Homo sapiens: one gene and its partners. The protein of the gene in region 4 purifies or fractionates together with the protein of the main gene of each other region. This does not show direct contact. Each region holds a gene or a part of one and is shown on either strand. Other genes may lie near its edges.

Evidence for each region.
Region 1: the proteins of PLEKHG2 (region 4) and LPP purify together in Homo sapiens (affinity purification with mass spectrometry; one large-scale study listed by BioGRID and IntAct). This does not show direct contact.
Region 2: the proteins of PLEKHG2 (region 4) and DYNLT2B purify together in Homo sapiens (affinity purification with mass spectrometry; one large-scale study listed by BioGRID and IntAct). This does not show direct contact.
Region 3: the proteins of PLEKHG2 (region 4) and DCK purify together in Homo sapiens (affinity purification with mass spectrometry; one large-scale study listed by BioGRID and IntAct). This does not show direct contact.

Annotation. Positions count from the first base shown.
Region 1 is NC_000003.12:188,157,128-188,160,692, reverse strand, and holds part of LPP (lipoma-preferred partner), read right to left. Parts: intron 1-3,565. UniProt on the Homo sapiens protein: May play a structural role at sites of cell adhesion in maintaining cell shape and motility. In addition to these structural functions, it may also be implicated in signaling events and activation of gene transcription.
Region 2 is NC_000003.12:196,294,216-196,297,780, forward strand, and holds part of DYNLT2B (dynein light chain Tctex-type protein 2B), read right to left. Parts: intron 1,855-3,565; coding exon 1,791-1,854; intron 1-1,790. UniProt on the Homo sapiens protein: Acts as one of several non-catalytic accessory components of the cytoplasmic dynein 2 complex (dynein-2 complex), a motor protein complex that drives the movement of cargos along microtubules within cilia and flagella in concert with the intraflagellar transport (IFT) system.
Region 3 is NC_000004.12:71,000,137-71,003,701, forward strand, and holds part of DCK (deoxycytidine kinase), read left to right. Parts: intron 1-3,565. UniProt on the Homo sapiens protein: Phosphorylates the deoxyribonucleosides deoxycytidine, deoxyguanosine and deoxyadenosine. Has broad substrate specificity, and does not display selectivity based on the chirality of the substrate.
Region 4 is NC_000019.10:39,411,235-39,415,515, forward strand, and holds the start of PLEKHG2 (pleckstrin homology domain-containing family G member 2), read left to right. Parts: upstream 1-1,434; 5' UTR 1,435-2,178; intron 2,179-2,544; exon of another isoform or gene 2,545-2,657; intron 2,658-2,830; 5' UTR 2,831-2,852; coding exon 2,853-2,961; intron 2,962-3,757; coding exon 3,758-4,026; intron 4,027-4,104; coding exon 4,105-4,205; intron 4,206-4,281. UniProt on the Homo sapiens protein: May be a transforming oncogene with exchange activity for CDC42. May be a guanine-nucleotide exchange factor (GEF) for RAC1 and CDC42. Activated by the binding to subunits beta and gamma of the heterotrimeric guanine nucleotide-binding protein (G protein).

The DNA of each region.
Region 1 (3,565 bases), on a different chromosome or scaffold from region 4:
ATACATGAAATTGAGTTGTATCTGATCACAGATACGTGTGGGTTGGAAGGGTTAAGGAGTCTGGAAATTGCTTCATGGCACAAGGTAGATTTTGATATTGATCCTAGAATCACAGGTTTACAACAGGCAGAGACAGAAAGGCTGGAAACTCCAGGTAGAGAAAACAGCATAAGAAAAGGCATGGATTAAGAAAACAGAGGGCTGGGCACAGTGGTTCACTCCTGTAATCCCAGCACTTTGGGAGGCCAAGGCCAGCGGATCACCTGAGGTCAGGAGTTCAAGACCAGCCTGGCCAACATGGTGAAACCCCATCTCCACAAAAATACAAAAATTAGCCAGGCGTGCCAGCAGGCACCTGTAATCCCAGCTACTTGGGAGGCTGAGGTAGGAGAATCGCTGGAACCTGGGAGGCGGAGGTTGCAGTGAGCCGAGATCGGGCCATTGCACTACAGCCTGGGCAACAAGAGTAAAACTCCATCTCAAGGCTGAGCGTGGTGGCTCACGCCTGTAATCCCAGCACTTTGGGAGACCAAGGCAGGTGGATCACGAGGTCAGGAGTTCAAGACCGCCTGGCCAACATGGTGAAACTCCGTCTCTATTAAAAATACAAAAATTAGCCGGGAGTGGTGGCGGGCACCTGTAATCCCAGCTACTTGGGAGGCTGAGGCAGGAGAATCACTTGAACCCAGGGGGTGGAGGTTGCAGTGAGCCAAGATTGCGCCACTGCACTCCAGCTTGTGTGACAAAGTGTGACTGTGTCTCAAAACAAACAAACCAAACAAACAAACAAAAAAATACTCTGTCTCAAAAGAGAAGAAAACAGAGGACTGTTCCAGACCACCTGTCTGTGTGAGGGAAAAGTGAAAGAGCAGTTGCAACTGCAATTAACCTTGGCATAGTTAATCTCACAACCCTCAGCTCTACACTCCCAGTCCCTCAATCTTCACTCTGCTGGCAGGACTGCCCAATGCCACCTGTGCCAGCAACAACTGGCTCAAGGTTCTGGGGCAGTAAAAACAGTCCCGCTCCCCCATGATTGCTATCCTGTGGCTGCAGTGAACTATTTTACTCCCTCTCTTCATCAAGCAAGTATTTCTGGAGTGCCTACCATGTGTCAGGCATTCTTCTGGGCATTGGGAATACAGCCATCAACAAGCAGACATCACTGCAATCCTCAAGCAGCTTATTTTAAAGTGGAGAGGAGGCAGACACACAAATATGTAAGATGAAGTGGTGATGCATGCTTATTTGTGTCCATAAACATTGTTCATTCACCAAACAGCTACTGAACATCCTGGGGTCTGTCTCCTCTCACAACACAATAAACAGATTATTAATGCTTTTATCTGTGAGTGGCCAAAATGTAGATGACCCATCTGACTCAGGTAGGTGATAGGAAGGATTGTAGGTGTTCCCTCAGAGCCCTGAGCCAGAAAGCTTTCCTAGAGGACGCAGAAGCTATATGGTTCAGCACCAGAGAACATATAGCACCGTTACCGGAGCCGTGAGATCAAAGGTAATGACTGAGTTCAAGACTGTCACTTCCCCACTCTGTTACTTTATGACCCTAACTGCCTCTCTACAAGAATAAATCACATTCTTAACACAACAAGGGACTGGGGAAGCGAGCTCTGTTGAAAGAGGCAGATGATTTGCTAGAGAGGCTTAGTCCTTTCCAGTTAGGTTTGGGGAGAGACGACACCCAAGGTAGCATCTTAAGAGAGAAAAAGGGGCTAGAACAGCACCAGTGTGGGACTGAGAAGCCCGTTTGTCCATGTGAATCCTCAATTGTGACCCCACTAGGGCCCCACGAATGTGGGCTGAATTAAATTCCAGGGAAGAACACAGACAAGCAATGTCGATTTGAGCTTTTCATGCATGTGGGCATAGAAAAGAGTGGTGAAGAGGCTATAAGAATGAGGCAGAAGTTTGAATGCCTCCTGGTAGTTGTGTAACCTTATTTCACCAAATTCATTTTCTCATCTGCAAAATGAGACTGGTAATCAAAAAACCTACTTTAATGAATCAATATGATAATTACATAACAGGTGGTAAGCATTTGAAAATATTTCAAAATTATATTACTATTAAAAAAGAATGATAGGAAAGGAAACATTTTCCAGCCTCAACTCTGTGGTTTACCTGCTTCCAAACATTAATCCCTACACTACCTACAGCTACCTATCCACCTACCAATCTCACTGATGTGACCAACATTTAGAATGCACCAGCCTTTTTCTCCAAGCCTCCAGGCAGCCTACAGCAGACTTCCACAACACACTTGAAATCCTTCCACCCTTCCCCTTGCCCTCAGGTTCTCCGCCTCATATGTTCCCTCAAGCCAACAGATTTTCACCCAGATACTAGCTTCCTGCATGCATCAACATGATTATATCTTCCCCTTCCTCACTCTACTAAGTTTCTTCTAGCAAAGCACAGCCCTCCAAAGCCAGATTCCAGGAAAAGTCCCACCCACCAATGAACATACTCAGCTTGGATCCTCTAATCGCGGCCCAGGGTCAAAGTCCCAGGTTCACTCAGACTAAAAGTGGTACTATGCCTCCTGCATTACCATCCAAATAACTACTCCCACAGAGATGACGCTAGAGACCCTACCCAGCCTTATTCTCCTGTGAATCTCTACAGAACCACTTAACGGCCCCTATCGAGATTAATTTAAACCTTACTTATTAAAAAGTAAAGGCCCTCTTCTTTCTCCATTTTCCATGGTCCTCTTCATGGCTGGCCTTTCAAAACACAGCCTGGAGAATAAAGCAGCTTCTCCCTGCTTCTGCATCTGCTACTATCTTGCTAATAGGTCCTTCTCTCACCTGTCCTTCTTCCACCTGGACAACTCCTACTCATTCCTAGAGGTTCAGCTCAGACACCCCCCTCTCTATAGTGGTTTCCCTGAGGGTGAGCCTTCTCAGTGAAGAGCAGCCAAAACTTACCCTGTAAAAGCACTTAATACACGGACATGCCCCACTCCACCTTTTTCCCTCCCCCTCACACACACCACACACTTGTGTGCTCCTCAAAGGCAGGGACCATGTACACCTCATCTTTGTACGCTCAGGGCCAAGCCAGTTTCTGGTTCACCGTAAGCAGGCTCCAACCCCGGGTTTTACCTGCTACCTGCCATTTTCTATCTCCCTGTCTTTTTTCTGCTTAATGCAGCAAATATCTGTGCTAAGGGGGCTACACAGTTCTTATGAGTTACACTCTACCCGTGTACAAAATCCCCATCATCCAGCATCTTCAGCATAGTTCTGAAATCAAATCCGATCTAACTCTTGCCCCATTCCCAATTAACCCAGACTGGCTCAACAGCAGGGTAAAGTCACACGTCACCACCAAGAAGCAAAAGTTCTGGGTTGTAATTTTGAACACATCCCTAATTAGCTATATGACCTTGGGCAAGGGTTAAAATAAAGGTGACAGCAGCAGCAGGCCTCATTCTCAGGGGACCTTTGAGATTCAAATGGAGTATCTGATTGGAAAGTGTTTTATAAAGTGCAAAGCACTGTACATTCATAAACGACATGATGAACAATTTTATCAGATT
Region 2 (3,565 bases), on a different chromosome or scaffold from region 4:
TGGTGCATGCCTGTAATCCCAGCTACTCGGAAGGCTGAGGCAGGACACTTCAACCCGGGAGGTGGAGGTTGTGGTGAGCTGAGATTGTGCCATTGCACTCCATCCTGGGCAACAAGAGCAAAATTCTGTCTCAAAAAATAATAAAAATAAAAATAAAACCTTGGTGAGACCATAGAATTTTAGAGCTAAAAGCTACCTTAAAATCATCTACATAAGCAGTGTCCATATCTGGCAGTCAGCAGAATCATGGGGAACTTTTTAAATATTCTGATTCACTGATCTAACCCCTGGCCTATTTGATCAGAATCTATTTGAATAGGGACCCAGCGTCTATATTTTAAACAACTTCCCAGATGATCCTTAGGCAGTCACAGCCAGTCTTTGGGAAAATGTACTTCAGCTTCCTAATGTCACTGATACAATGTGAGAAAAATCCAATGACTTACCTGAAGTCATTCAATTAGAAAGTGACAGAACTGGAGATGGAATCCCCCTCTTATTTCTTTTTACTTTTTTCTTTTTTCTTTTTTTAATTTTTGAGACAGAGTCTTGCTCTGCTGCCCAGGCTGGAATGCAGTGGTGCGATCTCAGCTCACTGGAACCTCCGCCACCAGGTTCAAGCAATTCTCCTGCCTCAGCCTCCCAAGTAGCTGGGATTACAGGCGTGCACCACCACACCCGGCTAATTTTTTGTGTGTGTGTTTTTAGCAGAGAAGAGGTTTCACAATGTTGGCCAGGCTGCTCTCAAACTCTTGACCTCAAGTGATCCACATGCCTCGGCCTCCCAAAGTGCTGAGATTACAAGCGTGAGCCACCCCACCTGGCCTCACTCTCTTAATTTACTCAATCTAGTTTCTGTTCTACTCTAACTCTGACTCTATGTATTCACAACCTGGGAGTAGACGAATAGAGGATGCAATCCTTTCTGGAGTAAATATAAAATAATAACTTCAATGAAACCTCTTTTATGTGTGTGTGTGTGTCACCCAGGCTGGAATACAGTGGCACAATCTCAGCTCACTGCAACCTCTGCCTCCGGGGTTCAAGCGATTCTCCTGCCTCAGCCTCCTGAGTAGCTGGGATTACAGGTGCCCGCCACCATGCTCGGCTAATTTTTATATTTTTAGTAGAGACAGGCTTTCACCATGTTGGCCAGGCTGGTCTTGAACTCCTGACCTCAGGTGATCCGCCCTCCTTGGCCTCCCAAAGTGCTGGGATTATAGGCATGAGCCACCGCGCCTGGCCTGAAACATCTTTTTAAAGATTCCTCTTTATTTTTGCTTAATTTTAATAAATGGCTTTAAGATAAAGTAATAAATTTTACTACTAAAAAAAAATGACCTTTGCTCATGGAATCCCTGCCATCCACATTTGTTTGCAACTTAGCAAAGTGTGATTGGTTCAAATGAACAAATAAGTGATTTTAAAATTTTAGTTATAAATTATTACTTTAATAAGGATTATCAGGATTGAGTTTTAGAACACTGATTTATGGAGGAAGTGGCTAAAAATAATGTTTAAATAATATGCTAACTAAATAATATGCTATTCAGAAATTCAAACCCATGAAAAATTATGTCATATGTAAACATGTAAGTTTCCTTGCCTATAAGCAGCACTCTAGGTTTCTGCTTTAGTAACACAAAAACTAACAGTAAAATCATTTCATTCACAAGTCAAAGATGAATGACTAAGACAGCAGTGTCTTTCCATCCCAATCAACAGTAAATAGTTTGATTTGCGGTGCCCACGTTCTTAGAAAGGGAAAAGAGGTTTCCAAATACACTTACATTCATGAAAACATCATGAGTATAGTTGTCAGTGTCAGCATCCCAGAAACAGCGAGAAGCCATGCTAAAAAATCCAAGAATGAAGAATTATCAACAATCTAACAAGGACCTAAACGACACATATCTGCCACGAGAAACAGTGTTCCTTAATACATTCTCATAGATCTGTACTTCCAAACCTTTCACAGGTAGGTACCCACAGAGTATTGTATTTGTACCAGAGAGTATACTGGGTAAACCGGAGAAACTAGAGTCAGATGAAGCTGCTTGCAACTAGAGGTGACCAGCCAGGTACTCTGACAGCCTCAGACCCTACCTGATGGCTACAGGGATCAATACTAGAGATTTGTGTGTGACTTTTAATGAGCTCAGCTCCTGCACAATAACAGGACGAGGAAGGCACAGAAAGAGCCCAACAGATTTAGTCCAACCTGATCATTTTATAGAGTCCCAGAAAAAGGAGCAAACTCTGAACTAGAATTCAGTCTTCTAACGAATTATAACTCCAAAAATATCTCTACAGAATGCTAAACTACCTTGAAATTGGCTATTCTCCTCTCTGCAATTCTTGGATAAGAAAAAAATATTAGTCAAAATAAAAGCCAATTAAAAATGGAAACAACTTAAATGCCCAATAGGACTGGATTGGTAAATGAAATTATGGTATTTCTCAGGATCTGGGAGAATTTTTTAAAAAAAGAAAAAAGAAATAATGATGTTTTCTGGCAATGAAATTCTATGTAGACCTTAAAGAAAAGTTTTGCAAGACACAGTGACGTGTCCCTGTAGTCCCAGCAACTCAGGAGGCTGAGACAGGGAGTATCATTTGAGCCCAGGAGTTCAGGGATGTAGTATGTGAAGATCACACCTGTGAACAGCCACTGCACTTCAGCCTGGGAGACACAGCAGGACCCTGGCTCTTAAAAAAAAAACAATTCTGCACTTTGGGAGGCCAAGGCGGGCAGATCACGAGGTCGGGGGATCGAGACCATCCTGGCTAACACGGTGAAACCCCATCTCTACTAAAAATACAAAAAATTAGCCAGGCGTGGCGGCAGGCACCAGTAGTCCCAGCTACTCAGGAGGCTGGTGTGAACCTGGGAGGCGGAGCTTGCAGTGACCTGAGATAGCACCACTGCACTCCAGCCTGGGAGACACAGCAGGACCCTGGCTCTTAAAAAAAAAATTCCAAGAACATGAAAAGCTATTCACAATATAATGTTGAGTGAAAAAAATAGGCTGGGCATGGTGGCTCACACCTGTAATCCCAGCACTTTGGGAGGCTGAGGTGGGCGAATCACCTGAGGTCAGGAGTTCGAGACCAGCCTGCCCAACATGGTGAAACCCCATCTCTACTAAAAATACAAAAATTGGCTGGGCATCGTGGCACACGCCTGTAATCCCAGCTACTCGGGAGGCTGAGGCAGGAGAATCACTTGAACCCAGGAGGTGGAGGCTGCAGTGAGCCAAGATTGTGCCACTGCACTCCAGCCTTGGCGACAGAGTGAGACTCTGTCTCAAAAACTAATAATAAATAATAATAATAAGTGAAAAAAAAATTACAAATGTTTTACATTTCTATTAAACGTATGTGTATGATTTATCATGCAAACACTTATTGAGCACTTACTTTGTGCCATTCACTAGTCTAAGTGTTTTACGTGTATTAACTCACTGAATCCTATGAGGTACTATAATTTTACCCATTTAGTGAATGTGACAAATGAGGATTAGAGAAATTAAGTGTACAAGGTCATACAACTAGGTAACAAAGC
Region 3 (3,565 bases), on a different chromosome or scaffold from region 4:
GAGTTTTTATGATTTTAGGTCTTATGTTTAAATCTTTAATCCATCTTGAATTAATTTTTGTATAAGGTGTAAGGAAGGGGTCCAGTTTCCGTTTTCTGCATATGGCTAGCCAGTTTTCCCAGCACCATTTATTAAATAGGGAATCCTTTCCCCATTGCTTGTTTTTGTCAGGTTTGTCAAAGATCAGATGGTTGTAGACGTGTGGTATTATTTCTGAGGGCTCTGTTCTGTTCCATTGGTCTATAGCTCTGTTTTGGTACAATACCATGCCGTTTTGGTTACTGTAGCCTTGTAGTATAGTTTGAAGTCAGGTAGCATGAGGCCTCAAGCCTTGTTCTTTTTGCTTAGGATTGTCTTGGCTATACGGGCTCTTTTTTGGTTCCATATGAAATTTAAGGTAGTTTTTTCTAATTCTGTGAAGAAAGTCAATGGTAGCTTGATGGGAATAGCATTGAATCTGTAAATTACTTTGGGCAGTATGGCCATTTTCACAATATTGATTTTTCCTATCTATGAGCATGGAATGTTTTACCATTTGTTTGTGTCCTCTCTTCTTTCCTTGAGCAGTGGTTTGTAGTTCTCCTTGAAGAGGTCCTTCACATCCGTTGTAAGTTGTATTCCTAGGTATTTTATTCTCTTTGTAGCAATTGTGAATGGGAATTCACTCATGATTTGGTTCTCTGTCTGTTAGTGGTGTATAGGAATGCTTGTGATTTTTGCCCATTGATTTTGTATCCTGAGACTTTACTGAAGTTGCTTGTCACCATAAGGGATTATGGGCTGAGATGATGGGGTTTTCTAAATATACAGTCATCATCTGCAAACAGAGATAATTTGACTTCCCCTCTTCCTATCTGAATCCCCTTTATTTCTTTCTCTTGCCTGATTGCCCTGGCCAGACCTTCCAATACTATGTTGAATAGGAGAGGTGAGAGAGGGCATCCTTATCCTGTGCCGATTTTTGAAGGGAATGGTATCGGCTGTGGGTTTGTCATAAATAGCTCTTATTTTGAGATACATTTCATCAATACCTAGTTTATTGAGAGTTTTTAGCATGAAGGGATGTTGAATTTTATTGAAGGCCTTTTTTGCATCTATTGAGATAATCATGCGGTTTTTGTCATTGGTTCTGTTTATGTGATAGATTATGTTTTATTGATTTGAGTATGTTGAACCAGCCCTGCATCCCAGGGATGAAGCCGACTTGATCGTGGTAGATGAGCTTTTTAATGTGCTACTGGATTCGGTTTGCCAGTATTTTATTGAGGATTTTCGCATCGATGTTCATCAGGGATATTGGCCTGACATTTTCTTTTTTTTGTTGTGTCTCTGCCAGGTTTTTGTATTAGGGTGATGCTGGCCTCAAAAAATGAGTTAGGGAGGAGTCCCTCTTTTTCTATTGTTTGGAAGTTTCAGAAGGAATAGTACCAGTTCCTCTTTCTACCTGTGGTAGAATTCAGCTGTGAATCCATCTGGTCCTGGGCTTTTTTTTGGTTGGTAGGATATTATTGCCTCAATTTCAGAACTTTTTATTGGTCTGTTCATTAAACCAGAGTTCTTCCTGGTTTAATCTTGGGAGGGCGTATGTGTCCAGGAGTTTATCCATTTCTTCCAGATTTTCTAGTTTATTTGCGTGGAGGTGTTTATAGTGTTCTCTGATGGTAGTTTGTATTTCTGTGGGATCAGTGGTGATCCTTTATTGTGTCTATTTGATTCTTCCCGCTTTTCTTCTTTATTATTCTGGCTAGTGGTCTATCTATTTTGTTAATCTTTTCGAAGAACCAGCTTCTGGATTCATTGATTTTTTGAAGAGTTTTTCGTGTCTCTATCTCCTTCAGTTCTGCTCTGATCTTAGTTATTTCTTGTGTTCTGCTAGCTTTTGAATTTGTTTGCTCTTGCTTCTCTAGTTCTTTTAATTGTGATGTTAGGGTGTCGATTTTAGATCTTTCCTGCTTTCTCATGTGGGCACTTAGTGCTATAAATTTCCCTCTAAACACTACTTTAGCTGTGTCCCAGAGATTGTGGTACGTTATGTCTTTGTTCTCATTGGTTGCAAAGAACTTATTTATTTCTGCCCTAATTTCGTTATTTACCCGGTAGTCATTCAGGAGTTGTTCAGTTTCCATGTAGTTGTGCAGTTTTGAGTGAGTTTCTTAATCCTGAGTTCTAATTTGATTGCACTGTGGTCTGACAGACTGTTATGATTTCCATTCTTTTGCATTTGCTGAGGAATGTTTTACTTCCAATTATGTGGTCAATTTTAGAGTAAGTGCACTGTGGTACTGAGAATAATGTATATTCTGTTGATTTGGGGTGGAGAGTTCTCTAGATGTCTTTCAGGTCTGCTTGGTCCAGAGCTGAGTTCAAGTCCTGAATATCCTTGTTAATTTTCTGTCTTGTTGATCTAATATTGACAGTGGGGTGTTAAAGTCTCCCACTGTTATTATGTGGGAGTCTAGGTCTCTTTGTGGGTTTCTAAGAACTTGCATTTTGAATCTGGGTGCTCCTGTATTGGGTGCATATCTATTTAGGATAGTTAGCTCTTGTTGTTGCATTGAACCCTTTACCATTATGTAATGCCCTTTGTCTTTTTTTCATGCTTATTGATTTAAAGTCTGTTTTATCTGAGACTAGGATTGCAACCCCTGCCTTTTTTTTGCTTTCCATTTGCTTGGTAAATCTTCCTCCATCCCTTTATTTTGAGCCTTTGTGTGTCTTTGCATGTGAGATGCGACTCCTGAATACCGCACACTGATGGGTCTTAACTCTGTCTAATTTGCCACTCTGTGTCTTTCAACTGGGGCATTTAGCCCATTTACATTTAAGGTTAATATTGTTATGTGTGAATTTGATCCTGTTATTATGATGCTAGCTGGTTATTTTGCCTGTTAGTTGATGCAGTTTCTTCATAGTGTCGATGGTCTTTACATTTTGGTATGTTTTTGCAGTGGCTGGTACCGGTTTTTCCTTTCCATATTTAATGCTTCCTTCAGGAGCTCTTGTAAGGCAGGCCTTGTGGTGATAAAATCCCTCTACATTTGCCTGTCTGTAAAGGATTTTATTTCTCCTTCACTTATGAAGCTTAGTTTGACTGGTTATGAAATTCTGGGTTGAAAATTCTTTTCTTTAAGAATGTTGAATGTTAGTCCCCACTCTCTTCTGGCTTGTAGGGTTTCTGCCGAGAGATCTGCTGTTAGTCTGATGGGCTTCCCTTTGTGGGTAACCCGACCTTTCTCTCTGGCTGCGCTTAACATTTTTTCCCTCATTTTAACCTTGGTGAATCTGACGATTATGTGTCTTGGCGTTGCTCTTCTCAAGGGCATCTTTGTGATGTTTTCTGTATTTCCTGGATTTGAATGTTGGCCTGTCTTGCTAGGTTGGGGAAGTTCTCCTGGATAATAATCCTGAAATGTGTTTTCCAACTTGGTTCCATTCGTCAGTTTCAGGTATACCAGTCAAACGTAGGTTTGGTCTTTTCACATAGTCCCATATTTCTTGGGAGGCTTTGTTTGTTCCTTTTCATTCTGTTTTCTCTAATCTTATCTTCACGCTTTATTTTTATTAA
Region 4 (4,281 bases):
AAAGGAAGCCTGTTATGAGACCTGAGTCAGGTCACATAAAAGTCAAAGTCCGAAGTCCTCCCCACAGCCCACACAATCTGGCACCCATCGCTTACCCTCCCCCTTGGCCACTCTGCTCCAGCCACACTGGCCTCCTAGCTGCTCTACCAAGTCTGGTCTGCTTCATCCATAGGAGCTTTGCACTAGCTGTTCCCTCTGCCTGAACACTCCCCTGGTGTCCCCATGGCTCACTCCCCTCCTTCATGTCTCTGCTCAAAAGTTGCCTTCTCTGTGAGATCCTCCCTGACCACTGCTGTTGCAATCCACACCCCACCTCCAACTACCCCATCCTCCCTACCTTGCTCGACTTTTTCCATGACATTTATCATCACCACCTAACATTAAAATGTACTTAATTCTTATGTTGACAGCAATCTGCCTCCCCACTAGAATGTCGCGTCCTCAGGGGCAGGGACTACTTGTTCACTGCTGTATTACACACAGCTAAAGGAAGCCAGGCATAGTGAATGTTCAATATTTATTGAAAAAACAAGTCGACTCAAAAACATAGTTTTCCTTTTCAACAGAGGTCGAAAACTCCAAGACAGATAGCTATGTTCATCTGTAAAGGAGGCATTAAAAAGACAGAGAAATACAGAGGAGGCAGAGTCATATACAGTTTGCCGAGGACCCACATCTCTACAGAAGTCAAACTGTTTGCACACAATTCCATGCCCAGAGCATCTAATAAGAGACGATACCCCCACCTGGTGGCTGGGACGGAAACGGCACCTCCCTACAATACAGAACACCCAAAGGACCGTCGCCAAAGCCCTAGGAGTCTTTTGAGCCCAATAATTCAAAAGATAGAAACGTTCATTCATCTAAGTGATGTAGATGTTTTGGTTGGTTTATTAGATGTGTAAGTTTATAAAAACTGATGGGGAAAAAAAGTGCTCCAGGTGAGGATCGAACTCACAACCTCGGCATTGCTCCGCTCGCACTGTCATATAAGTACCGCGCGCTAACCGATTGCGCCACTGGAGCTCCGGCCGCACCCCTGCGCCGGGGTCTTCTTCAGTGGTTCATAGCCACGTGACCTCACCGGAGGGCCCCGCCTTGTGTTATATATGCAAATTAAACATTTTGCATTGACCAATAGGAGACAGTGCATTGCCAGTTCCGGATTCTCACGCCTCGCGGCCCTTGCTGTAAAAGGGAAAAGTCCGCGAGGCGTTTGGAATGTAGGGGTGTCGCCTACCAGAAGGACACGCCTCCTCATGAATATTCAAAACAAGGGGTGGGGTCTTAACCCTTCGCTGGCGGGTCGGCCGGAAGGCAGCCCCTCCCCCCCCCGCAGGCGGGAACAGGATGTGAGCCCCGGCGACAGCGGGGGAGGGGAAGCCCCGGGCGACCGCCCCCCGCCTCACAGCTGGGATCGGACTCTCCCGCCCCAGATGTGGCGCCGCCGCCGTCACACGAGCCCCGTGACACCCAGCCGGGAGCCCGAGGGGTCCAGAGGCTCGGACCCGGGCGTCCGGAATTTCTGCACCGCATCCTGAGAGACCCCGAGGTCCAGACCCCGGCGCCCAGGCTGGAGGACTTGAGCCATCCAGGTGCGCAGCGCCCCCTCCTGGAGCAGCCGGGAGCCCGGACGTCACCCCGCGAGACCCTGGAGGCCGAGCGCCCCGTATCCCCGTTTCAAGAACTCAGGATCCAGGACCGCAGACTCCCTCCAGGGCTCCGATCCCAAGACCCCGCGTTGGAGGAACTTGAGATCCGGACTTCTAAGCGCCCCAACCAGTTTCGGGCTGCAGCGGCCATCGCTTCAAGGGGACCCAGGACTTTGGGACCCCCCTGTGCTCCCACCTGGAGGGAGTTTCATTCCTGCCCCTAGAATTAGGGGAACTCAGAAATCCATCCCCCACCCCACGGCCCTACCTAGAAGACTTAGGAATGTGGGTCCCCAGCGCCGCCATCTGAGACTCCAGAGTCGAGGCTCCTAGCATCCCCTACGTAGAACACTGAGAAATTCCGACTGCGGGACCCCAGTCTCCGAGAGACCCCAGATTCTATTCCTGGAGCCTGAGAGCCCGAAGTTCACGCCCCTGAGTCTGGGCTCCGCACCTCCCTGGGGACCGCGTCGGGGTCGCGCAGGAGCCGGGCTGCCTCGAGCCGGGGCTGGAGGCTCCCCGGGAGGTGAGGGGGGAGGCGAGGGGCCCAGGCGGACTGGGGGAGGGGGCGGCGCCACTGCTGAACAATGAGGGGGCGTGCCGGCGGGGGGCGAGCCGAGGCGCCGGCGGGAGTTGGGGGCTGGAGGGGTGTGGGAAGGCGCTGGGGAGGCTGTGGCTGTGGGGACGGCGATCGGGGTTCGGAGAGACCGGCCGGAGGGGGTGCGAGGGCTCGGGGCCAGCGCCCCAGCGCGCAGCCCTCGGCGGGGGAGGGAGCCGTCTGCAGGACCCTGGCATCCGGTCCCCCAGCCTCCGCCCTCCCCTGGGACCCCGCGGCCTCCCGCCCACGGCTTTTCCCAGCCCTGCCCCTCGCCCTCCGCTCCAGCTGGAGCCCAAACGTTCCCAGGATCCCTAAGCCTCCGGCCCCAGACAAACGGGACTCGCAGCTTCTGCGCCTCCTGCTCCGCTCACTCTTCTTTGTCTCAGCCTTTCCATCTTTTTCGCCAGGTTCTCTCTCCTTGTCCCCTTCTTTCTGTCACTTTGTGCCTCCCCCATTAGTTACTCCCAGGGGCCCCTCCCTGGATTTACACCACGCTCCTAATTCCCAGCCCCCATCTGTGAGTCTGGGCGGCGGAGAGGCCCATGGGGTCCTGATATCCAAGAAGGGGCTCTTTCTGCAGGACTCTGCTGGGCCGCTCAGCCATGCCTGAGGGAGCCCAAGGACTGAGCCTCTCCAAACCTAGCCCAAGCCTCGGGTGTGGCCGAAGAGGTGAAGTGTGTGACTGTGGCACCGTGTGTGAGACTCGGACAGGTGAGCCTAGAGGCAGGGGCGGCGGAGCCTGTGGGGCTTTTATTCCTTGGCAATGCTGTCAAGGCAGGGTGATGGAGACAACCCCAGGCCAACTCGCACAAAGCTCCGAGTCTGGTGGGGAAGGCGGGCCCATCCCCAGGCAATGACAGGCCAGAGGGGGCAGCGCTGGGCAGAGTGGTCAGGGCTGTGATCGTGGATCCTCTGAGCTCGGAAGGTCAGGGGAAGGTTCCTGGAGGTGGGAACATCTCAACTGGGAAGTGGAAGATTAGGGGGAAGGAGTTGCGCAAAGACAAGGAAGAGTATTCTACATGCAAGGAACAGCATGTGCAAAGGCCCAGCGGTGAGAAAAGGCTGCATGTAAGTGACTGAAAGAAGTTGAGTGTCACTGGCATCCAGAGTGTAAGAAGAGGGGTGGCTGTGGGAAGAGAACTGGCTAGAGGGATCTGTGTTGGCCACATTGCCCAGTGCCCTGTGGATCTGAGGAGTTTGGACTTTATCCCCAGGGGCATGAAGGGGTTACACTCACGGGAGTAATACAGTCAGATAGACAAATTAATAAATGTCTACCTAGCTGATTCATGGAGGTGGATTAGAGAAATGGAGGCCAGAAGTCCAGAGAGGACCCTGATGGGAGAGGATGGGACTGGACCAAGACAGGGCAGTGGGGAGAGGAGGAAGGAGCCTGTGGGAAAGCTGTTGGACAGGTGTGGGTGAGGGTGTGGGCTGAACGCATGAAAGGCTGTGGAAGTCCGTGCATGGGGAGATTTCTCTGACCTCCTGTTCCACACCCCAGCAGCTCCTGCAGCCCCCACCATGGCCTCCCCCCGAGGTTCTGGGAGCTCCACATCCCTGAGCACAGTGGGCTCTGAGGGGGATCCAGCCCCTGGGCCCACTCCAGCCTGCTCAGCCTCCAGGCCAGAGCCCCTTCCAGGGCCTCCCATCCGCCTACATCTCTCTCCGGTGGGGATCCCAGGTTCAGCCAGACCCTCAAGGCTGGAGCGTGTGGCCCGGGAGATCGTGGAGACAGAACGGGCCTATGTCAGGGACCTCCGCAGCATCGTGGAGGTAAGGCGGGCAGACACCAGAGGGCAGTGGGTACCCAGGCCAGCCCCTTGGCCCCCATAACCCCAGTCATCCCAACAGGACTACCTGGGCCCTCTGCTGGACGGCGGGGTCCTGGGGCTGAGCGTGGAGCAGGTGGGCACGCTGTTTGCCAACATTGAGGACATCTACGAGTTCAGCAGGTCAGGGGCAGGGGGGACAGGCAGGGGGCATTGATTGGTTGGAGGGTCTATTTCCTAATCCAAACCTCGGAGCTTC